Homo sapiens: one gene and its partners. The protein of the gene in region 1 interacts with the protein of each later gene in a biochemical or structural test. Each region holds a gene or a part of one and is shown in the gene's direction. Other genes may lie near its edges. The genes, in order: HTR2C, FRMPD4, MAGI2, PARD3, CARD11, SYNJ2BP and MAST1.

Region 1 (3,500 bases):
ATGTAAAAATTTCTAAAAACACACATACTACCAAAAGTGACTCAAGGAGAAATAATCTGAAGAGTCATATAAAAAGTAACTACATTGAATCAGTGATCAAATACCTCTCAACAATGAAAGCTCAAGACAAGAAGTTTTCCTTTTGAATTTCACCGAACATTTCAAAAATTAACACCAATTCTTCTCAAACTCTTCTAAAAAATAGAAGATGAAGAAACATTTTGTAATATATTCTATTAGACTGGCATTATCTTAATATCAAAGCCAGCTAAAGACATTACAAGAAAATTATAGATTAGTATTGTTTATTAATATAAATGCAAAAGTCTTCAATAAAATACTAGCAAACTAAATTCAGCACCATATTATATACCCATTACTAAATGGGATTTATCTCAGGGATGCAAGAGGGATTCAACATACAGAAACTAATCAATGTAATGTATCACATTAATAGAATGAAGGTATGCAAACCACATGATTATGTCAATTGATGCAGAAAAAGCATTTGCAAAAGTCCATCACTTTTTTATGATAAAAAAATGTTCAACAAACTAGGAATAAAAGAAAATGTCCTTGACAGGCATTTATAAAAAACAAAAACAAAACCCAGTCAATAGTGAAAGACTGATTTTCCTCTAAGATCAGGGAAAAAAGGCAGAATGCCCAACTTCATTAGTTCTATTTATCATGGTACTGAAAATTCCATGTAGAGAAATTAGGCAAAGAGAGGAAATAAAAGGCAGAGGAAAATTGGAAAAGAATAAATCAAATTATTTCTATTTGCAGAAGACATGATCTTATATATGGAAAATCCCAAAGAGTCAACACAAAACATAGCTCTAATAAATGAATTCAGCAAAGTTGCAGGACATTTGTAGTTCTATACACAGTGATGAACAATCCATGAAAGAATTTAAGAAAACAATTCTATTTACAACAGCTTCCAAAAAAACCTCAATTGATAACAGCATCAGCCACAAAGAAGAATTAAGTATTGATACATGCTACGAAATAGATAAACCTCAAAAACATTAGCTAGGTGAAAGAAGCCAGACCCAAAAAGTCACAAATTGTATGATTCTATTTATATGAAATATCCAAATTAGTTAAATCCATAGACTGGATTAAGAAAATGTGGCACATATACACCATGGAATACTATGCAGCCATAAAAAATGATGAGTTCATGTCCTTTGTAGGGACATGGATGAAATTGGAAATCATCATTCTCAGTAAACTATCGCAAGGACAAAAAACCAAACACTGCATGTTCTCACTCATAGGTGGGAATTGAACAATGAGAACACATGGACACAGGAAGGGGAACATCACACTCTGGGGACTGTTGTGGGGTGGGGGGAGGGGGGAGGGGTAGCATTAGGATATATACCTAATGCTAAATGACGAGTTAATGGGTGCAGCACACCAGCATAGCACATGTATACATATGTAACTAACCTGCACATTGTGCACATGTACCCTAAAACTTAAAGTATAATAATAATTAAAAAAAAAAGATAAAAAGCAAATTAGAGATTGCCAGGAGCTGGTTGATGGGAGAATGGGAAGTAACTGCTTAACGGTATGCAGTTTCCTTTTGGAGTGATGAAATGTTTCTGAACTAGAGACAGATGCTAGTTGCACAATATTGTGAATGTACTAGATGCCATTGGATTGTACACTTTAAAGAGATTAATTTTATGTTGTGTAAATTTTACCTCAATAAAATATATGTCACGCTGAAGGTATCATTATCATGATCACCATCATCATCCCTATAGAAAATAATGCTTCCTAAATTTCACTTTCTTTAAAAGGTTTAGATTATGAGAAAATATAAGCAGACTAAAATTTGAGACTATAGTCAGTACAATTTGGATGACGTGTTCTTGTCTTCTCTCTGTTCTCTTTCAGATTATGTCTGGCCACTACCTAGATATTTGTGCCCCGTCTGGATTTCTTTAGATGTTTTATTTTCAACAGCGTCCATCATGCACCTCTGCGCTATATCGCTGGATCGGTATGTAGCAATACGTAATCCTATTGAGCATAGCCGTTTCAATTCGCGGACTAAGGCCATCATGAAGATTGCTATTGTTTGGGCAATTTCTATAGGTAAATAAAACTTTTTGGCCATAAGAATTGCAGCGGCTATGCTCAATACTTTCGGATTATGTACTGTGAACAACGTACAGACGTCGACTGGTAACATTTGCGTTTGATCGGGTTCTTTTATTTAGTAATTATTCTTAACCTATTTATCTGATATTTAGGTTAACAATAATGAAAGGAATGTAATGTGTATTAATATGTAAATATAAAGTTTCCATTTATGCTGCTAAATTATTTTATGCATTAGTATGCCAATGAATTCTGCAACACAGATACAAAATGTTTGAAATATTTAAAATGCTTTGAAAATGAGAAAGACATAAAGTCTAATTAAAGTCTAAATTTTAAAAATATAACATTTCAATCTTATATTGAAAAGTTACATGTATCCCAGAATATTAACCTTAGTATTTTTATTCTAAATTCCTATCCTTTTCAGTAGAAAAATTAATAATGCAATCTAAATCATCATCAAGTAAATATGTCTAAATTTTTGTTGCTATGACACCTAAAATGTACTATTTTCTCTCAGTTTTAATTGTCTTCTTGAATTCTGGGTATACAAAAAGAAAAAAAAATTTGTTTCTTTAAAGATTTGTAGCAGTTTAAAGGGAAAGAAATGATCATTTATTGCTTATATTTGAGGTATTCATAAATGCCTTAACAGTGCTAATATTAAAGCCAAGAAATTTAAACAATTGGACTTTAGGGGTTTTACTTTCATGTTTTTTTCCTTTTCCAGTTGGTGTAAATAATTTTTCTTCATATTTATGTTTTTGTAAAGATTGAGGTAAAGTGTGCAACAAGATCAAGACTTCTATTTAATCTTCACTAATATCATCTAAATATTTTGACTCTGGGTTTATTGATCAAATACATTTAAGTTTTAAGATTGTTCTATTGTAGATTGTTCTGCCTGTGTATAGCATAGACACCTTTGAATAAAAAGTCGTGAAGCTTGTCCCAAAAGACAAAAATGAATTTACGTAAGTTTGACTTACAAATTCAAGAGTTCACAGATTTTGCCCTAGCCATCACAAAGAGTTCATCTAAAAAGATGCCAGCTTTTATGGTGCTTACAAAGGAAATACACAGACAGAATATTGTTGCATCAGCTTCTAGTAATGAAAGACTGAGTAATTTGCAATGACTCTTGTGCTAAAGGCAAATAAACACATGGATAAAACACTAAAAGCCCTAAGAAGCTAATGAAATAGAAATTGCTATTGGCTAAGATCCAGAAAAAGACAAAAACCCAAGAAAAATGATTATGACTTCTAGTTCACTTTTGCCAATGATGCATTATAAACCTGAAGATATGACTGACAGGTGGAGACGATCATTTCAGACTCGCAAGCAATGGAGGACTAGAGTAGGAATACAGA
Region 2 (3,500 bases), about 100 Mb from region 1:
TTTTGACTTTTTAGAGTGTCTACATTTAACTATTCGTTTCCAGAATCTATACCCTTTTAATCGTGGGAAAAATCAGAATTGACAGTGCCCCTCAATAACCCAGTACCATTAAAAAAAAATTGCTGCCAAGTGTTGGAATTGCTGGTAAGTAGTTGGCACCCTTTACATCATCAGTTAGAGTTATGACCCTTGATTGCATCCTTCGTGGGTGGCACAGTGTGTCATGGTTCTATCTGAAGATGGTTTTTCCCGTTCTTCTAATTTTCTGGTTCTTAAACTGCTTGATAGTTTACATGCAGTTTTACTTCACTGTTTCCTTGGTAACAGTTCTATATTATTTTCCATCCTTGTAGATGAGAGCATTACAGATGATTGCCTTATAAACCAGTAATAGTATAAAAACAGGCATATATTTTTATTGTTACTGCTCTTTGTATTGACTATTTTATTTGTAAAGCAGATGCATTCTTTCAAATGTTTATAGAAGAATGCAGTCCAGTAGAAAAACATATGATTATGCCCCTTTTGCCAGAGGGAGATGATTTGAGATCCAAAACTCATAGGGATGTTATTAAATTGAGTGATATGTTCATAGATTAAGTCCCTGATTTGGCTTCTTTTCTTTAAGCAAAACGGTAGACTTGATGATAATGATTGAGTCCCCACTGTTGATATGATGATTTCTTATAGTAGTAGGTAAATTTGGGGAATGCTTTACTTTGCATTTTCTTATAGTTGCATGGGTTATTTTGTGGTATATAGCAGTGACTAATATCTAATATTAGAATGCTAATTTTCTTACAAGTATCTTATATTTGAGGAAAAATACAAAATACATATGTATAGTTTCCTTAGATTTTTATGTCAAGTCCATTTAGATACTACTAAACTTCTGTCTTTTACCTTTATCTTATTCAGAATTAAATATTTCCCAGGGAAAAGGGGAAGTTAAAGAAGTAATGCAAAAGGTCAGGGTTTTTCCCATATCCCCTATTTTTACTGAGTAATTGTATTAATATTGCTGATAATAGTGAGCTCTGGAGGCTAGCAATGAAAAAACCCCAAAGACTCTGGATTTGAATTTTATTAAAAATGCTACTTGCTCATCTTCTGAATCCTTTCTAAGTTCTGCTGATTTTTGTGACTGTCAGGAGGTGAAATGATGAACAGTTTCATAACAGAACTAGATTCCTGTTTTAGGAATATTTAACTCTAGTTTCCCAAGAGTTGCTAGTTTGAAGCTGTGAAAGTCTAGTCGCTCGCAGTTCTGGGAAGAAGGCGTCTAGGTCAGGCTTTGTACCATTTCAAGCATCTCTCTCTCTCTCTCTTATTGTCTGGGGCAAGTGAGTTTCACCTTCTTGCTATCAGAATTTGGTACAGACTGACAGCTGCAGTGAAACTTACTTGTACTTTAAATGCATGACCTGGAAAGTCTCACTTTCTGCTTATGGTCCTTCCAGCTGTTCATTCTCCCCCTTTACATACACATACACTGTTCAACTTTAGTACTTTGTTATTTCATTTGAGGTTAACCGTGGAAGTTTAGCTGTAAGAGAATGTACATTATTGGTGAACTAGAAATGTATCTTTAAGGAATGAACTTGAAACCACTGGTTTCACACTTGGCTCAATAAGAAAACTCAAGACCGTTTAAAATCTTTGTTTAAGCATACCGTCCTGAAATCTACCACTGTTACCATCAAATGATCTTTAATCTTGAAAGCTAATCATAGCAGGAAAAGAAAATTATGAATAGGCTAAAACAGGGGTTGGCATACTGTGGCCTATGAGCCAAATCTGGCTTGCTGACTGTTATGGCATAGCCTGTGAGCAAAGAATGGTTTCTTTATTTTTAAATGGTTCAAAAATATCAAAAAAAGAATAATATGAAATTAAAATTTCAGTGTCCATAAATAAAGTTTTATTGGAACACATGTCCATTCATTTATGTATTATCTATGGCTGCATTTGCCTGACAACAGCAAAGTTGAATAGATGCCACAGAGACCTTATGGCCTACAAAGCCTAAAATATTTACTCTCTGGCTCTTTACAGAAAAAGTTAACTGACCCCTGGGTTAAACAATGCCTTTTTCCTGTTTTCTCTTCTTTATCATTAGCAGCACACATGTGGGCACACACATGTCAAATCGAGCATATTATAATAAATACTTGAATTCACTGACCCCTGGGTTAAACAATGCCTTTTCCTGTTTTCGCTTCTTTATCATTATCAGCACACATGCGGGCACACACGTCAAATTGAGCATATTATAATAAATACTTGAATTCACTAATGCACATTACCAGTTAATATAGACCTTATCTTTATTGAAACTTCTGATCTCAAATTACTTCTTGAACTGTTGGAAACTGACCATTAGAAGTGGACATAATTGTCCTACTAATTTGTTGCACTTGGAAAAATTATGCATGCTTATTCTTTGGTCACTAAGTTGACCTGATATTTTTGGGGAGCTGGAGAGTTGCTTGTTAAGGTGATGTTTGCCTTCCATAAATATCCAGTTCAAAATGTATGGAAAAAGAATGGGTGATACTACTTGTATAGCCTCAACCAATGTGTGCTGGTGAACTGATAATCAAGTCAACAGGAGAATGCCTAGTATTTCCTTACAGTACACTTGAGCCATCTGGTCCTAATGGCTAATGACCTTCACTAATCTGTTTCCAAATGGAAATAAAACCAGATAAGTGGATTTAGTTGTAGTCAGAGGAATGGAGGTAGGCTGTATCAATTTGGAGTTGAGTTTAATCTAACTTTCCTATGATTTGACTGAGAGCATTATAATGAGAAATCATAGACTACCTTTAGTTCTTTACAGCAAAAACATATATCAAAAGTATGCTGCCTTGCTTCTGAGTAATTTAGGTCATTATGTACTTAAGCTCTGAAAATTATCTTGAAGAAATCTAAGCCTTAGTTTTAGATAACAAAGTTAACATTCCCATTTTTTTTTTTTTCCTGGCAAAGAGATGAGAAGGGTTTTCTGCCAGAACTGTTCTTTCAGAAATATATTTTCAAGTATGGTTTACAGAATTTGGCATAAGATAAATAGTCTATACTAAATAATTAGTGAGTGAAGTCATATACAATTCATTCTAACATTTGTTGCAAACAAATTGTCATATTTGTTTAGCTGAACAATTACCATGTCAGTACTTCTTTATTGAATATAACGGAATACAATGTACATGTTAAAAGTAAATAGCCTGCTCTTGGACTTGGTCTCAGAGAATAAACTTTTATTTCTGTTTTTACATTTGAAGTATATATATATTATATATATAAAATATAATATATATATTTGGTGATTGATGGTTAAAAAGTCATCAACTTGTATTTCCAAGGAGTCTCTGTTTTACTGCTTTAAGCTCAATAAGCAAAGTTATGATGATATTGAAATGGGTTTTTATAGATGTCAGTAAGTTTTTATTTTAGAAAGTCTTTTTTGAAAGCTAGGAAAACACAATCATTTCTAT
Region 3 (3,500 bases), on another chromosome or scaffold:
CTGAAGTGAATGACCATTTAGCAAACAAAGTAAATTTTCCAGCAATGTAGTAATGAAAATATATGCTTAGCTTTCAAAAGAAATGTATCTTCTTATTTTTATGGAGAAAAAATTTGATAAAATTATAAGTATTTTCACAAGGATGATCTCATTTTCACAGTAGCTCTGCAAAAGAGGAAATGTAAGAGATATTTTTATTCCCATTTTATAAAAGAAGAAATTGAGAGATGGGGAGATCAAGTGACTCTTCCAATTCTCCGTCTTAAGTAGGCCAACAGGTTAGAGCCAGAGCCAGTCTTCCTGATGATGTCCCTTTCTGTGCTCTTAAACCCAATCTGTCTGAGGACTTGGCATGGCACCGTCAGATGACATATACCAGGTGTCTTATATTTTTATTTCACGACATGTAAATGACATTCATACAGCACAGTCTATTAATATTCTATCCAATAAGTTCTATCTGAACAAGCAAATGTTTGCTGACATCCCCGTCTATAAGAGTTTTGGGCATGACTTATTATCTAGACATCTATATATTTTTTTAAAGTGGGCAGTTGAGTACCATCAAGTTGTTATATAGTTTTATCCTGTGATAACTGACCACTCATCTTTTACATTCAGAAATCTTCTACGTATCTTCATAAAGATATTGTTGCAGTGTTCTTTATCCTTGCCTGATGACTTGAAAAATTGCTGTTAGTGGAAAATATCCATAAATTGTAAAAGGCAGTCTTACTAAGAAACACAAATAGTTCTCACTCTGTTTCTAAATAGCAAGATCACATTAAAACTCAAAAATAGGTAACATTAATCACTACAATTCAAACTACTACTCTCTAGACCTGGCAGGGAAACTTGAGAGCTTTCAACATAACCCTTAGTTCTTTCCCGTGAAATTCTGGCAGAGCAGAGGGAAGGAGAGAGCGTGCTTGGGGACTGGGGAGTCTGTTAACAGTGATTAAAGTTAGGGAGAGCCTTAGAGGAAGTGGCATTTGTTACCTCTCTGACTTTTACTTGGCCATTCAGAAACCCATTGTTTCCACAATCATACTCAAGTCATCCTTGACTGTAACTGTGGTGGGAATATCTGGGTAGAACTGTCCTGATTTTATAGAAGAATATAACAAAGGACAAAGAGTAATTACTGAAATAGCAATCATCTTTTGCATAACAATTTACAGCTTAGAAACCCTTTCACCTGTATGATCTCATTCGTTATTTCCCATGGAACAATAAGTTGCTATTACTATTGTTCATCATTACTTCTAAAAAATCTGAGTCACAGAGGATTGAAGCCAGTTTGGGAAAGTTATACAGCTAATAAGTGATGAAACTAGAACTCAGACCAAAGTCTTTTGACCTCATATCCCATGTGATCTCTACTATACCTTGCAGCCTCCTGAACCTAAGAAGAATGTTGGAGCAAGAATGAAAGTAGACATAAAAAATAGTCAATGAGTTAAAAAAAACTCACTGAATAGGAAATTGAGGAAATGAGGCATACCCAAGAGAAAATCCAAAAGGCCAATAAACATGAAAAGATGCTCACCTTCACTGGCAGTCTGGGAAATGCAAATCAAAACTATGATCACATCCATTAGATTGGTAAAAATTAAGTCTGAGAATACGAAGTACTGTGTCAGATGTAAAGCAATGAAAATTTCAACACACTACCGATCAGAGTGTAAATCAATGTGACCTCTTTTGTCAGCCATTTGCCACTATCTAACAAAGTTGAAGATGCACATGGTCTGTGCCAGCATGGGGTTCATAGCAGAGTTATTTTCAATAGCCACAGATTTGTCATAACTCCGGTGTCCATTAACAAAAGAATGGATGAATGTTATTAAGTAGTAATATAGCCATCACTAAATACTGTATTACAATGAAAACTAATCAACTAGAGGCACAAGTATCAAAATAGATAAATATCACAAACATATTTTAAGAAAAGTTACAGAATATTAAAATATATACCATTTACAAAAGGCTTAAAATATGTAAAATACTTTCCAGGGATTATTATTATTTAGAGATTAGATACTATTTAGAGATATTGTTTTTACGGACACCTAGATATGATATAAATTATAAAGGTATATGTAAATAACAAACCTCAAATAGGGCAATGGTTACCTTGGAAAGGGCTGTAAAGGAGTGCAAGTTGGGGGAGAGGTGCTAGCCAAGGGGGATTCAACTAATATGAGCAATGTTCCAATCATTAAGTTGGATGTTAGTATACAAGTATTTGTTGTTCTTTCAACCTTTTAAATGTAGAAAATATAACATTAAAACTAAAAGAAACAGGAGAGAAAAATAGTCTATCTGAATCAGACACTTCTCTGGGACACTGAGATGAATGGAATCAATTAAAAACGATTCCCAAAGCATCCCCAGCTGCCACAGTCTGAAGAGGAATTATAATAACAGTGAGGGAATGTCCACTCCAATTCAGTTCTGAGCCGTGGACCCACGTTCCAGCCACCACATCAGTACCCTCTCTGATAGACATTATGGAAAAGTGAAGTTCCATCTGACCAATCACATAGGTTGTGACATTTTCTAGAGGCAGACCTAACCTGGATCCCTGAAAATGTCTGCTTGGCCTCTCTGTCAATTTGGGAAGAGGGACTGTTAATTAAGACAATGCTGTTAATTGTTTTATTCATTTTATGTTATACACCTACAAAAGACCAGAAAAGTTGTCAACTCTAAAAGTTCAACTCTGTTTTTCATTTTTAACGTTTGCAAGCTTGCTGGGCAAGGATGTCTCAGAATGAAATCCCTAGCCATTTGTACCTCCCATTCCAGAATTATTCTGATAAACTGATGTCTGTTGAGTTGCTTATTTCAAGATCTGTGAAAACATGTCTCTTCATCCCTAATATACTCCTCAGCATAGTCAGGCACAATCTCAATTTGCAAGCTCAATTTTCAAGTATTATGGTTTGTGAAGATAAAAATACCAATCCATGATAAAATAGTTCTCCAAAAATAAAATTGTTATTCATACATAATTGAAATTTTTAAAAAAACATTTATCTCAAACAGCCATGATTTTCTGCATTTTAAGCAGGAAAAAATATTTCTCTGAATATATTTTATAATGGATAATTTGCATTCAGAGCATTTCTAATCATAAAGTTAGCCTCTAACCAGTAGACCTCTGAAAATCTGTGATAGTTCACTGGGGAGAAAGGACAAGTGCCTTTATTGAAACTGATCCACAGAAATATTAGTTTATCTAAGATCAGAGGATGAACTGTGGCAACTTTCTGTTTGAAACCAAGGGACCCAAATCTCCTCCATCCTATTTTAACAACAATCATATTAATAATAGTCCACATTTATTGAGCACTGTGTGTCATACACTATGCCAAGTACTTTTCCTACATTATGTCATTTCATTCTCACAACTTTACAAATGAGGAACTGTGGCTCAAAGCAGGGAACTTGGTCAATATCATGTATCTGTTAAATAGTAGAGCCAAGGTGTCAAC
Region 4 (3,500 bases), on another chromosome or scaffold:
CTGGGCATGGTGGCGCATGCCTGTGATCCCAGCTACTCAGGAGGCTGAGGCAGGAGAATCGCTTGAACCCAGGTGGTGGAGGTTGCAATGAACCAAGATCATGCTATTGCACTACAGCCTGGACGACAAGAACGAAACTCCATCTCAAAAAAGAATAAAATAAGACTAAAAAAATAAAAATAACAGCAATCAGAGCTAGGTTAAGACCCCTGTTGCTTATACTGTGATTTAAAGAAGTATTTCTTATTTGTCCCAGTCTGTATAGAATGTCCTGTCAGTTATGAAGTTAGTGTTCTAGAGCAAGTAGGGGGTCTCTCAAAGGTCATTCACACTTTTCTTTCAACCTGAGTGAGTACATATGTGGAAGAGATGAATGGTGATTGGCATTATTTGAACCTCTCACTGACGTTTTTCTGTTGGGTCATTTGTTTTTCCAAATGGGAATATTGACAATAAATGACTTACTTTTGGGAGACCTGACAGGTTTTGAAATTCACAATACTAAGCACTATCAAATTCAAATGCAAAGCATGGAAACTCCTTTATTCCTGAAATCTTTCCTATTATCATTCTCAAACCTGCAGTGCAATGAGGTTAGCTTTTCCTCATTACCTTTACTTTCACAGAAAGATGGGAGTTGCAGTCGTCTTTTAAGCTAGCGTGCCAGCTGGCTTAAAACAGAAAATTGCCCAAGCCATTCAAAAATACATGCTTATCCATCCTCCACACTGCAATACCCACTCAACCATTAGGCGGGCTCTGTTTGGGGCATTTGTAAACAGAGAGAGTGTTATAGCTTGTTCTAGAAACATAATACTGACCAGCCAGAAACTGATTTTTTACATTTATGGAAGGGATGCATTTTTACATGTCATTTTAACGTTGTGGTTTTTGTCTGTCATTTAAAAATGTATGAATAGTCATTTTAACATGCTCCTTTGTAAGGACATCTTTGTAAATATAATAACAGCATTAAAGTGGTAAGGCAGTGTGCATGGTGGAGATATTACATGTGTAATCATTTGCATTCTTAATGTTCCAGAACCCTGGGGTTATTAGTAAAACGATTGGAGAAAGGTGGTAAAGCTGAACATGAAAATCTTTTTCGTGAGAATGATTGCATTGTCAGGATTAATGATGGCGACCTTCGAAATAGAAGATTTGAACAGTAAGTGTGTGCTCGCTGCACTTCTGTTCTTACTTGCATTAGGCATGACAGAGTGCAGTCAGTTGAAATGCTTCAAACATGTCTGTGATCTCAGTCTGTATACTGGAGAGGAATATTTTCTGCCATTAGCTTTTAAAAATTTAAACATACTCAGTAATTAATACCATTAGACTATATTTCAAAATGTCCTCTGATGGATATAGCTCTTCTTAAGTATTATGGCCCCCATTTCAACTTTACAATTTTGCTGGTTCCTCTCCTTTTGGAAAATTGACAGTGTGCCCATTTTTATCATACTTTAACTCACCCGTCCACCTTTGCTGCACACAGTTTCTCTAGATACAAACAAGCAGATAAAGCTGTTTGTATCTGCTTGAGGTTGTATTCAGATACACTTTATCTTGGGTTGTATTCAGATACAATATTGGGTTGTATTCAGATACACTTTATCTTGATTCAGGCCCTTAGTCAATGAAAAACATAACAGTTGGCCAGTTCTTATAAAACAAGGCAGGAGCAAACAGAACTCTTAAGAACTTGAGGTCCTGACCAGGGAACCAGCATGAGAAAGAGCTGCTTCCCAGGCTGGTTGTATGGGTGCACTGTGACCCACAGCTGTCAACATTTTGAATTATTGAGCCTGGATTGCTGTTCTTGAGATTTTTACATATACCAACTTAATAAATAATTAATAGTTACTTTCTATAGTCTTCTAAGTGTGTGTGTGTGTGTGTGTGTATTTTAAAAATTTTAAATACACATCTAACCCAATCCAATATTCTAAATATAATTATAAAGCTCTGTCTTTCTTTGAAAACTTAAATTGAAGTATTTTGTAATGTCTACAAGTTGTATTAGACAATGTTGTAGAGAGAATGTTCCATTTGGTTTCTATTATTGAAATTATAATACTTGTTATACTTAAAACATGTTTAATGATTTACAGTTGAGAGGACAGAATTTTATCTGTAGTTGTAGATAATTTTTCTATTTTTATTGAGAGAATGAGAAATTTATATTTGAAGAAACAGCTATTGATAGATCAGAGCTGCAAACTTGATTGATAAATGGGTTATTAGAATTTTGCTTTTCAATTTCAACAGCCTGTCAGTTCTTATTGCTTAATTAGTAAACTTAATTAAGCTCATAATATCTTCTAGTCTGCCAGTCTTAATTTGCTAATTTTCTATTCTTTCTCAAACCCAGAGCACAACATATGTTTCGCCAAGCCATGCGTACACCCATCATTTGGTTCCATGTGGTTCCTGCAGCAAATAAAGAGCAGTATGAACAACTATCCCAAAGTGAGAAGAACAATTACTATTCAAGCCGTTTTAGCCCTGACAGCCAGTATATTGACAACAGGAGTGTGAACAGTGCAGGGCTTCACACGGTGCAGAGAGCACCCCGACTGAACCACCCGCCTGAGCAGATAGACTCTCACTCAAGACTACCTCATAGCGCACACCCCTCGGGAAAACCACCATCCGCTCCAGCCTCGGCACCTCAGAATGTATTTAGTACGACTGTAAGCAGTGGTTATAACACCAAAAAAATAGGCAAGAGGCTTAATATCCAGCTTAAGAAAGGTACGACCTATCCTGTTTTTGTTTTGTGGAATTTCTTTTCTTAGCAGCAACACACAAGGGTAGAAATGGAATTTATTTTAAAAGTCAACCTACTAACCCAAAGCACCCTGAGTCTTATCTAATTATTTTGTGAAAGAACTGATAGATTTTTTAAAGTTACTTACCTTTTAACATATTTCAAATTGTATTTCTTATATGTCTCAGGTTTATTTTGCTCTGTAGAAATTAAAATGTAAAAGTGCAGAGAATAAGACTATGTCTATGAGAAGAAGATAGCAGTTACTGTAGTAAAATTTTTGATTGTGAAAGAAAATGGCTTCAGGACATTAATATCAAATGCAGAACAATAGTAAGGATTTGACCATTTTGACTGCCCCATTTGCTGTATAAGTCCAGCCCTCAAGGAGGACTTTAGAGGTAGTGCACGTCAATCTCAGTATTTGATGTGGGGAGGGACCAATTTGTTTGAGGCTGCCAGGAGTTTATAGTAGGTTGCTGAGAAGCCAGGCCATTGACTCTTGTCTTTTGTTTTCTTGTATTATTGCATTACTTCCCTTTCTTTTTTTTCTTTTCTTTTCCTCTCTTTTCTTTTTCTTTCTTTTTTTTTTTTTTTTTTTTTTTTTTTTTGAGACAGGGCCTTTCTTTGTTGCCCAGGCTACAGTGCAGTGGTGCAGTCATAGCTCACCGTAGCCCGCAACACCCCATGTCAGCCTTCCAAGTGCTGTGACTAGAGGCACATGCCG
Region 5 (3,500 bases), on another chromosome or scaffold:
TCTCACCCAAAGATTTGTCTTCCTGCTCTCAATCCCAGAGAACCATATATTATTCCATAATTTTTATCGTGCTTCCAACCTCCTTCAGTCATAGAAGACCTGGTGCCTACGTGGTTCATTTTGGCCCTGGTCAGTTGGGAAACTCTTCAAAACTGGGGCGGCAATTCCATTTATCCTGGTTCTACCAGTTTATTAGAAACAGAAAACTAACGCTCACCAAATCCCTGCGGAGGGCCTGGCACCTTGATTTACGTCATCTGGGCTCCAAGATACAACTCAGAAGTGATAGAATGTGGGGAGACTGTCTTCTTAGAGTTGATTGAAGGACACAAGTCCAGGATGAGACCAGCCACAGAGACTTGCGTTCCATCAGATATGTATTCTCACAGAGTGATCTGGTCTTTCCCCTAGGCCGGCTGTTGGACATTCTACATACCAAGGGGCAAAGGGGCTATGTGGTCTTCTTGGAGAGCCTAGAATTTTATTACCCAGAACTGTACAAACTGGTGACTGGGAAAGAGCCCACTCGGAGATTCTCCACCATTGTGGGTAAGTGCTTTTGCCATTGGGAACATCTGGACTCTAAGAGGAGGGGCGTGTGTGTGTGTGTGTCTGTGTGTGTGTGTGTGTGTGTGTGTGTCCTCAGTAGTGGCATGGTTCTTAAGCTGTGAATCTATGACATATAGAACTGGGGTCTGTCAACCACTTATTTTGCTTGATGATGAAAGGTTAACAGGGGCAAAGGGAAGCAGGAACCAAGAGAAGTGGGTGTTCACGGACCATCCCCCATGAATGGCGCCAGGTGGAACACAAGTTCATTCTACCCCGTAGATCTTGTCCTTGCCTTGCCTGCATTCTTTCTAGTGTCTCATGGGCCAGAGCCCTTGAGCATCTTGCCTTCTTAATCTTCCTTTCTAAACATTCTTGAATCAGTCTTCTCGCCCGCCCCAACACTTCCCACAGTCCAGACTCCCACAACCCCATTAACTCTCCATATCCATTCCCGATCTGTTCCAGTGCTTTCTCCATTCTTCCTCCCCTATTTAAAACCCTTTGGTGGTTTTTCATTGCTTCTTTGTAAAGACCCAGGTCTTGGCCAGGCACAGTGGCTCATGCCTGAAATTCCAACACTTTTGGAGGCTGCAGCCATAGAATTGCTTGAGCCCAGGAGTTCCAGGCTGCAATAAGCTATGATCATGCCCCTGCACTCCAGCCTGGGTAATAGAGCGAGACCCTGTTTTAAAATATAAAAAAAGTCCCAGGTCTTTAATGCAGCCCACAAGGACCCTTCATGATCCAGTCCCTGCTGACACCACCAGCCTCGCCTTTCTCTTCTCTCTCTCTCCTTCGGCCACTTTGGTCTTCGTTCAGTTCCTGAAATATGCCAAGTTCCTCCCTCCTCCCCATATGGCCTTGGCAATGTTGTTCCCCTTTCCTAGAATGCCTTTTCCCACCCGAACTTAACATTTTACCTCAACCATCAGGAGCCTTCTCCAACCCCCTCTGCCCACAAGGCTGGATCTGGGCCCCTGCTACACACTCTCATAGCCCCATCTACCTTTACTTTGTGAAATCCTCACGGTCTGTAATTCTATTTGTGGTATCATTTGATTTTTTTAAATGTGTTTCTCTTATTACACCCTAAGCTCTCCCGGGGCCAAGGCTGTGAGTCTCGCTCACTCTGAATCCCCAGTGCCTCGTGGGCAGAGTGAGTAAAGAGCTTGGCACAACGTTGGTGAGTGAGTGAATGAATGGCACCTGCCCTGCGTCTGGAACCTCCTTTTTCCACTTCCCAGTCCTCAGGCCTGACTGGGTGCCCCCTCTCCACAGTGGAGGAAGGCCACGAGGGCCTCACGCACTTCCTGATGAACGAGGTCATCAAGCTGCAGCAGCAGATGAAGGCCAAGGACCTGCAACGCTGCGAGCTGCTGGCCAGGTTGCGGCAGCTGGAGGATGAGAAGAAGCAGATGACGCTGACGCGCGTGGAGCTGCTAACCTTCCAGGAGCGGTACTACAAGATGAAGGAAGAGCGGGACAGCTACAATGACGAGCTGGTCAAGGTGAAGGACGACAACTACAACTTAGCCATGCGCTACGCACAGCTCAGTGAGGAGAAGAACATGGCGGTCATGAGGAGCCGAGACCTCCAACTCGAGGTGAGGGGTGCCCAAGGGCTACTCCGCCAGGGTGACCCGGGGGAAACAAATGTCACCAGGGCTCAATTCTCCCATAAAGCAGGTGCAGGCACATGCACGTGGTCTGCCGGAGCTTCCTGCCAGCCAGGTGTGGGGGAATGGAGGACACAGGGCCTCTGGGAGTTCTAGGTCCACTATGCACCTGCACGTGTACCCATAGTGCTTAGCGCTACCGGGTAAGCGGCCTACATCCCCTGTGCGCATGGGCAGACATGCGCACAAGGACCGACCCAGTGCGCAGCTTTCCACCACCGGCTCAGTCCCAGATCCACCTTGCACATGCGCATGCAGACCCAGAATGGCTCACTCCGCAAATGAATTAAGGAGATTTACATCTTCTTTTTTCTTTTCTTTTATTTTCCTTTCCTTCTTTTCTTTCTTTCTTTTTCTTTTCTTTTTTTTTTTTTTTTTTTTTTTTTTTTTTGAGACAGGGTCTTCCACTGCCCAGGCTGCAGTGGTGTGATCATGGCTCACTGAAGCCTTGACCTCCTAGACTCAAGTGATCCTCCTGTCTCAGCCTCCAAAGTAGCTGGGACTACAGGTGCCCACCATCACGCCAGGCTATTCTTTCAATTTTTTTGTAGAAAAGGGGTCTCGCTATTTTGCCCAGGCTGATCTGCAACTCCTGGGCTCAAGTGATCTGCCTCCCTTGGCCTTACAAAGTGGTGGGATTACAGGTATGAGCCACTGCACCCGGCCTCGTTCATTCTTTCTGTTTATTGAGTTCCATCGGGTACCAGGCTTTTTGTTTTTGGGTTTTTTGGAGGAGTTTTTTGGACAGAGTCTCACTCTGTCACCCAGGCTGGAGTGCAGTGGTGTGATCACAGCTCACTGTAGCTTTGGCCTTGCAGGCTCAGGTGATCCTCCCACCTTAGCCTCCCAAGTAGCTGGGACTACAGGTACATGCTATGCCAGCTAATTTTTTTCTATTTTTATCCTACCCACCCCCCTTTTTCTATTTTTAGTAAAGACAGGGTTTCACCATGTTGCCCAGGCTGGTCTTGAACTCCTGGGCTCGGGCAATCTGCACACTTGGCCTCCCAAAGTGCTGGGATTACAGGTATAAGCCACCACACCTGGCCCCCAGGCTCTTTTCCAGGGATACATAGCTGAAGACTAAAACCCTTCTGTCGTGGAACTAACATTGTAATCAGAAAACAAATGCATAGATACTTGGTAGAAATGAGTGCTATCAAGAAGAGAAGACAGGGCGTGAGGACAGAACATGAGGATTGCTACTTTAACTAGGGTGTCCAGGAAAGGTCTCTGAGAAGGAGACACATGAAGAGAGATCTGAAGGGATGA
Region 6 (3,046 bases), on another chromosome or scaffold:
GCGTGGCATCTCACAATCTGTGTTTTTGTAATCCTTCCAGGTGACTGATTCATGCTAAAGTTTGAGACTCATTGCTCTATGCCAGTCATCATTCCCTTTGCTCAGGTTAGAATCATCTGGAGAGCTTATAAACGTCCCCATGCCCAGGCTGCACACAGATCAATTAAAAGGAACCTCTGAGGGTGGGACTCAAGCAGCAGTAAAATAAAGTTCATTGAGTGATTCTGGTGTGCAGCCGCAGTTGAAAATGTTATATAGCATTTAAACAAGACACTATTTAATTAAACACTATTTAAATTATTAAATTACATACATTGCTTCAGGCAAAACAACAACAACAACAACAACAACAAAAACTTGGGCCTTTAGAGCCCAGCTTCCTGAGCTTCTGCACGAAGTAAGTGGAACATTCATTTCTTCCTGATTTGCTAAGGATTGATCAACCTCCAGCAAAATGTATGATTAGTGAGTGTTTCAGTTGGTGCATCAATTAAATGAGAACCAATCATAGAACATTGAAGCTAAAAAGGACCAGAGAGCTTCTAGGATGAATCTGTCTTAGAGATGAGAAAAATAAAGGCTCAGAGAGGGAAGCTAACTTAACTCTGATCAGACTTAGTTTGTTGCAGAAGTGACCTTTCTGTCTCATATTTATGTCTTGAATATATTCACTACATGAATACACAGACTACCCATTTTATCTTAGTCTACTTCTTTCTTCTCTCTTTGGGCCTGAATAAAGACCAGAACTGATAGACAGCTAAAGGATATTGCAAGCATCATTATTGGAATTGGGAGATTCCACAGAACAATCTGAGAATGATCTCATATCAAATCCAATCAGATGAGTTATTCTGAGACTAATTCCAATAGTTCTAGAGACTTTTTTTTTTATGGTGGACATTGTTTTTATTGTGTAAATAAGCAATTTTTAAAGTATATTTAAAGAAATGAAACATAAGGAAGTGTATAGGCTGTCAGGTATGTGGGGAAGTGAAGTTCATGTAGTTTTCATGTGGAGCCCATACAGATTTTATTATAGTCAATTTTAGTGAAATTTATCGTTGGTCAGATGAAGGTTTTTTTCCTTCATTCAGCAAATAACTAATGACTGCCTACTATGTGCTAGGTGCCGAAGATAGAGAGATAAATAACACTTAGTCACTCTAAGCTGAAATTGCTCAGCATATGAAAGTGGAGGAATATTTGTAGGTGATTTTGATGTTAAAGTATTTTTTTAACATCACCTGGTAGTAGAAGATTGAGTTATGAAGCTGTCTACCTCTCACCTGTAATAGTTTTAGAGTTGGTTGCTATTTTGGTGTAAGTCTTTTTTGCTGTTCCTCTTTTAACTGCAAATCTTTTTGAGACCAGCACTCACATCCAAAAGGGCAATTGTGATAAAAAAGAAGACAGTATTTTAAGGATTCTGATCAGAACCAGATTCTTTTCTTTTCTTTTTTTTTTTTTTTTTTTTTTTTTTGAGACGGAGTCTTGCTCTGTCGCCTAGGCTGGAGTGCAGTGGCACGATCTCAGCTCACTGCAATCTCTGCCGCCCGGGTTCAAGCGATTCTCCTGCCTCAGCCTCCCCAGTAGTTGGGATTACAGGTGTGTGCCACAACGCCTGGCTAATTTTTGTATTTTTAGTAGACACGGGGTTTCAGCATCTTGGCCAGGCTGGTCTTGAATTCCTGACCTCGTGATCCACCCATCTCGGCCTCCCAAAGTGCAGAACCAGATTCTTAACTGCCACAGACTCTTGTATTATGTAATTTATATACAGAACACAAAGCACTTGATTTGCTTAACTGATGTACTTGATGATACTATAAAACCTATATTATGAGAAAGCATTGCTCCTTCAAAGGAATCAAGTGATAGCAAACACTCGGTCCTGTTTCCAGGTTTTCCTCACTGTTCATTTTGCCTTTGTTCTTGCAGGGGGAGAATGAAAGGGGCGAGAGCTAAAGTGTGTTGTCAATGCAAGTCAATCCTTAACCAACAATAATTTACAAAAGAACTTTATATTTGCTGTAATCATTAAATTTAGTTACTAATCCCAGGAAAAGGGTTAGTCCTTCCTCCTAGTTTGTAGATTTGCAAATGGAGATGAATAATTGAATCCTATTTTAATCTTTTATCTGCAGTAATCTGGGCTTCTTATTACCGGATATATTTGCATTTTACCTCCAGGCCATGTTAGTTCTTAGAAGATTATTTTCCTCATGAACCCTGTTTTGTTTTGCTTCCTTTCTGCTTCAATTCTAATGTCACATTGCATACCTGGATGTAAACAGCAGTCAGTTTCTCAGATCAAATAGAGCCCTGTAGCAACTTGGAAGACACAGAAGACACACGGACATAAAACTGTATTTATTATCCAGGGAATGTCACTACGGATTAATTATGTTAATGAGGCCATCAAAATCTATGGTAATCTTTCAGGCTTTGTTGTTTGATACCAGATACAGCAAATGAGATAATAATGTGTCTAATTGTGCCTAGCCAGTATTGGTATTTAATAAAACTTTGTCATTGAATCTTTACAATCTTTTTTCACCTTATTTTGAAGACCGTTGATTAAATATCTCATTTTTTTTTCTTCCAGATGAGGGTTTTTTCCTTCATTCAGCAAATATCTGATAAGTGCTTACTATGTACTAGATATTCTTAGGGTAACACCTCTGACAGAATTGTGGAAAGAGGAAGAAATCTAAATGATCAGTTTGAGGCTTTGACATAGGAGATAAGGAACAGGACATTGATATCCTGTTAACAATTATGGAGCTCTTATCAATATTCCAGCTTTTGTTCTAAGGCCTTTGCATGTATAATATTTATTTAAGCCTCAAAACAACTCTTAAGATAACTGCTGTTGTTATCTTCATTTTATAGATAAAAGGCATAGAGAGGTTAAGTAACTTGCCCAAGTTATACAGCTACTAAGTGCCAAAGCTGTGATTTAAACCCAGGCAATCTGGCTTCAAAACCTGCATTCATAACTATAACACCTTACTGTCTCTACTTCCCATGGTACCAGGCACTG
Region 7 (3,500 bases), on another chromosome or scaffold:
CGAGACCTGGACTGGACAGGGCTGCTGAGGCAGAAGGCCGAGTTCATCCCCCACCTAGAGTCGGAAGATGACACTAGCTACTTTGACAGTGAGCTGGGACACCAGGCACGACCTGGGTCGAGGGGTGGGATCCGGGAAGAGGGACCCTGGGGTAAGTAAAGCCTGGGATAGGGCCTGGCTAAGTACCAAGATGTGATGCCTAGGTGCGAAGGTGGTATTTTGGTGGGGGCGGGGCCAAGTGGGGCGGGGCTGACATACAGGCGGGGCTCAGGCTGAAATGTAGGTAAGAACCTGAGATTGGGCTAGGTGTGGGGCCTGGCCTGGGTGAGTTGTGAGTGTGGGCCTGGAACTGAACTAGAGAGAGGTACTAGCGCTCAGAATGGCCTGGGGTGATGCCAGGGTGCAGAGCACTGTAGGTGGAGCGTGGCCTCTTTGGAGGCGGGGCTAGACGGTGCCACTGAGAATGGGGCAAGGACCTTGCCTGGGAGCGGAGCCTAAATTAAATACACTAATGAGGCAGGGGCGTGGCCTGACCTGAAGACTTGTAAACCCGTCTTGAACCAGGACTGGGCTCCTGTGGGGATGTGATATGAGGAGGAACCCCGTACCCTCAGTCACAGCCCATACCCGCTCCCCAGCCCGCTCAGACAGGTATCACCACGTGAACTCCTATGACGAGGATGACACGACGGAGGAGGAGCCCGTGGAAATCCGCCAGTTCTCTTCCTGCTCTCCGCGCTTCAGCAAGGTGGGCCAAGTCTGGGTGTGGGACAGGGCGAGACCCCAGGAGGGATGGGGCTTGGAGAGACAGTGAGAAACAGGTTCCCTGGTGCCCAAGGTCTCAGGAGCGGGAAGTTATTGATGGGGCGGGAGTCTGGAAGGTGGTAAGGCCACGCAAGAGGCAGGTTCGGGAGTCTATGGGACGGGCCTTTGGCACTGAGTGGAATCTAACAGGAATCAGGACAGTTGTGCAGATTGAGGCCATGGTGGGGCGGGGCTAGGTGTGGGTGGGGCGGGGTCAGGACGTGGGAATGAGGCCAGCAGCGAAGGCGGAGTAAAGCCCAGCGAAGTCTTGCTTTTATTTATTTATTTTTATTTTTTCTAATAACGGGCAGAGAAGCCATAGGCCTTGCTTTGAGAAGCAACTTGTAGAGGCGTGCAGGGCCTAGCCTGGGCTAAGGAGACATAAATTAAGGGGGTTGCTGGGAAGATGGGGCTGTGTAGAGAGCAGATTGGTCAGGGCATCGTCGGGGCAGAGCCTAGAATAAAACGCAGTGCCTAACTTTGTGGTGTGGGGCCTGAACTGAAGAATTGTAGGTTGGGGGATCATGCACAATTGGGCGGAGCCAGGCCTCGGAGGGTGGAGTGCGTTTTGCGGGGGATCCACTGCCAGGAAGCTGATTAGCTCCGGAGTGAAAGTGGAACCCGGGCTGGACTTGCCTCCCACCACCACCTACAGGTGTATAGCAGCATGGAGCAGCTGTCGCAGCACGAGCCCAAGACCCCAGTAGCAGCTGCAGGGAGCAGCAAGCGGGAGCCGAGCACCAAGGGCCCCGAGGAGAAGGTGGCCGGCAAGCGGGAGGGGCTGGGCGGCCTGACCCTGCGTGAGAAGACCTGGAGAGGGGGCTCTCCGGAGATGTGAGCAGGGGAATGGCGGAGTTTGGGGGCGGGGTCGAAGGGGGCGTGTCTTCCATAACCACGCCCCCTCCATGCAGCAAGCGATTCTCCGCGTCCGAGGCCAGTTTCCTGGAGGGAGAGGCCAGTCCCCCTTTGGGCGCCCGCCGCCGTTTCTCGGCGCTGCTGGAGCCCAGCCGCTTCAGCGCCCCCCAAGAGGACGAGGATGAGGCCCGGCTGCGCAGGCCTCCCCGGCCCAGCTCCGACCCCGCGGGATCCCTGGATGCACGGGCCCCCAAAGAGGAGACTCAAGGGGAAGGCACCTCCAGCGCCGGGGACTCCGAGGCCAGTGAGTGCCCTATCGTGCTGCCTTCCCCAATCTTCCCCAATGTCCTACTGGTCATATAGTGAGCATCCCACGAGCCTGGTGCTGTTTATGAAAGATCTCAGGTCCTATTCACATTGCAATTTGGGATTTTTTTTTTTTTTTTTTTTTTTGAGACAGAGTCTCACTCCATCACCCAGGATGGAGTGCAGTGGCGTGATCTCGGCTCACTGCAACCTCCACCTCCCAAGTTCAAGTGGTTCTCGCACCTCAGCCTCCCGAGTAGCTGGGATTACAGGCGCGCGCCACTACCCCCGGCTAATTTTTGTATTTTTAGTAGAGACAGGGTTTCTTCATGTTGGCAAGGCTGGTCTCGAACTCCTGACCTCAAGTGATCTGCCTTCCTTGGCCTACCAAAGTGCTGGGGTTACAGTCGTGAGCCACCACACCCAGCCCAATTTGGGATTCTTAACATTAGAAACACCCCAATACCATGGTCAGTCAGTGATACAGACCGATACAGACTATGTCTCTATATGAGGAGCAGTGAGGCATGCAGGTTACCTGCTCAGATGAAACTCACCATCCATCAAGGGTAAAAAGTGGAAAGAGCATTCCAGGCAGGGAAACAGTATGTGGGAAATCCCTGGCCTTGGACTAATTCCTAACACACTTGCTTTCTGTTGCAGCTGACCGTCCACGCCCAGGTGACCTCTGCCCACCCTCGAAGGATGGGGATGCATCAGGCCCAAGGGCTACCAATGACTTGGTTCTGCGCCGGGCGCGGCACCAGCAGATGTCAGGGGATGTGGCAGTAGAGAAGAGGCCTTCTCGAACTGGGGGCAAAGTCATCAAATCAGCCTCAGCCACTGCCTTATCTGTCATGATTCCTGCAGGTAATGCTGGGCCCCACCTGGCAGGGGAGGGGCTGCCCCCCATTTGAGGCAGGACAGACCAATGAAAATGCTGCATTTTCCCTGTCCACCGTGATTGGCTCCAGGCTGGACCAATGAGAGGCTGCTCTGCCACTGCCTTGGGAGGAGGGAGGAGCAGATACAGGGAGATGTCTATCTTCTTGGTTCTGATTTCTGACCATGGTTGTGTGTCTGTAGTGGACCCACATGGAAGTTCACCCCTTGCTAGTCCCATGTCTCCACGATCTCTGTCCTCCAACCCATCCTCACGGGACTCCTCACCCAGCCGGGACTACTCACCAGCTGTCAGTGGGCTCCGCTCCCCCATCACCATCCAGCGCTCGGGCAAGAAGTATGGCTTCACACTGCGTGCCATCCGTGTCTACATGGGTGACACGGATGTCTATAGTGTCCACCACATTGTCTGGGTGAGTACTCATGGGTGGAGTCTCCATCACAGAGTGGAGGGTGGTGGGGAAAAGGCCCCTCCAGCTCAAACCAGTTAGCCTGGGTGAGACACCTCTGTGACCCTCTATGCCTCTTCCCTCTCTAAACCTGTTTCTTTTTTCTTTTACTTTTTTATTTTAGGCGGAGACTCACTGTGTCGCCAGGCCGGAGTGCAGTGGCAGGATCTCGGCTCACTGCAA

Evidence for each region.
Region 2: the proteins of HTR2C (region 1) and FRMPD4 interact in a test that uses a peptide from one of them, tested with the Homo sapiens proteins (one large-scale study listed by IntAct).
Region 3: the proteins of HTR2C (region 1) and MAGI2 interact in a test that uses a peptide from one of them, tested with the Homo sapiens proteins (one large-scale study listed by IntAct).
Region 4: the proteins of HTR2C (region 1) and PARD3 interact in a test that uses a peptide from one of them, tested with the Homo sapiens proteins (one large-scale study listed by IntAct).
Region 5: the proteins of HTR2C (region 1) and CARD11 interact in a test that uses a peptide from one of them, tested with the Homo sapiens proteins (one large-scale study listed by IntAct).
Region 6: the proteins of HTR2C (region 1) and SYNJ2BP interact in a test that uses a peptide from one of them, tested with the Homo sapiens proteins (one large-scale study listed by IntAct).
Region 7: the proteins of HTR2C (region 1) and MAST1 interact in a test that uses a peptide from one of them, tested with the Homo sapiens proteins (one large-scale study listed by IntAct).

Annotation. Positions count from the first base shown.
Region 1 is NC_000023.11:114,846,086-114,849,585, forward strand, and holds part of HTR2C (5-hydroxytryptamine receptor 2C isoform a precursor), read left to right. Parts: intron 1-1,917; coding exon 1,918-2,118; intron 2,119-3,500. UniProt on the Homo sapiens protein: G-protein coupled receptor for 5-hydroxytryptamine (serotonin).
Region 2 is NC_000023.11:12,141,473-12,144,972, forward strand, and holds part of FRMPD4 (FERM and PDZ domain-containing protein 4), read left to right. Parts: intron 1-3,500. UniProt on the Homo sapiens protein: Positive regulator of dendritic spine morphogenesis and density. Required for the maintenance of excitatory synaptic transmission. Binds phosphatidylinositol 4,5-bisphosphate.
Region 3 is NC_000007.14:78,257,168-78,260,667, reverse strand, and holds part of MAGI2 (membrane-associated guanylate kinase, WW and PDZ domain-containing protein 2), read left to right. Parts: intron 1-3,500. UniProt on the Homo sapiens protein: Seems to act as a scaffold molecule at synaptic junctions by assembling neurotransmitter receptors and cell adhesion proteins. Plays a role in nerve growth factor (NGF)-induced recruitment of RAPGEF2 to late endosomes and neurite outgrowth.
Region 4 is NC_000010.11:34,381,797-34,385,296, reverse strand, and holds part of PARD3 (partitioning defective 3 homolog), read left to right. Parts: intron 1-1,042; coding exon 1,043-1,168; intron 1,169-2,374; coding exon 2,375-2,757; intron 2,758-3,500. UniProt on the Homo sapiens protein: Adapter protein involved in asymmetrical cell division and cell polarization processes. Seems to play a central role in the formation of epithelial tight junctions. Targets the phosphatase PTEN to cell junctions.
Region 5 is NC_000007.14:2,942,868-2,946,367, reverse strand, and holds part of CARD11 (caspase recruitment domain-containing protein 11), read left to right. Parts: intron 1-411; coding exon 412-549; intron 550-1,830; coding exon 1,831-2,156; exon of another isoform or gene 2,157-2,333; intron 2,334-3,500. UniProt on the Homo sapiens protein: Adapter protein that plays a key role in adaptive immune response by transducing the activation of NF-kappa-B downstream of T-cell receptor (TCR) and B-cell receptor (BCR) engagement.
Region 6 is NC_000014.9:70,365,999-70,369,044, reverse strand, and holds the end of SYNJ2BP (synaptojanin-2-binding protein), read left to right. Parts: 3' UTR 1-2,546; downstream 2,547-3,046. UniProt on the Homo sapiens protein: Regulates endocytosis of activin type 2 receptor kinases through the Ral/RALBP1-dependent pathway and may be involved in suppression of activin-induced signal transduction.
Region 7 is NC_000019.10:12,866,015-12,869,514, forward strand, and holds part of MAST1 (microtubule-associated serine/threonine-protein kinase 1), read left to right. Parts: coding exon 1-88; intron 89-638; coding exon 639-748; intron 749-1,459; coding exon 1,460-1,638; intron 1,639-1,715; coding exon 1,716-1,963; intron 1,964-2,628; coding exon 2,629-2,835; intron 2,836-3,051; coding exon 3,052-3,281; intron 3,282-3,500. UniProt on the Homo sapiens protein: Microtubule-associated protein essential for correct brain development. Appears to link the dystrophin/utrophin network with microtubule filaments via the syntrophins. Phosphorylation of DMD or UTRN may modulate their affinities for associated proteins.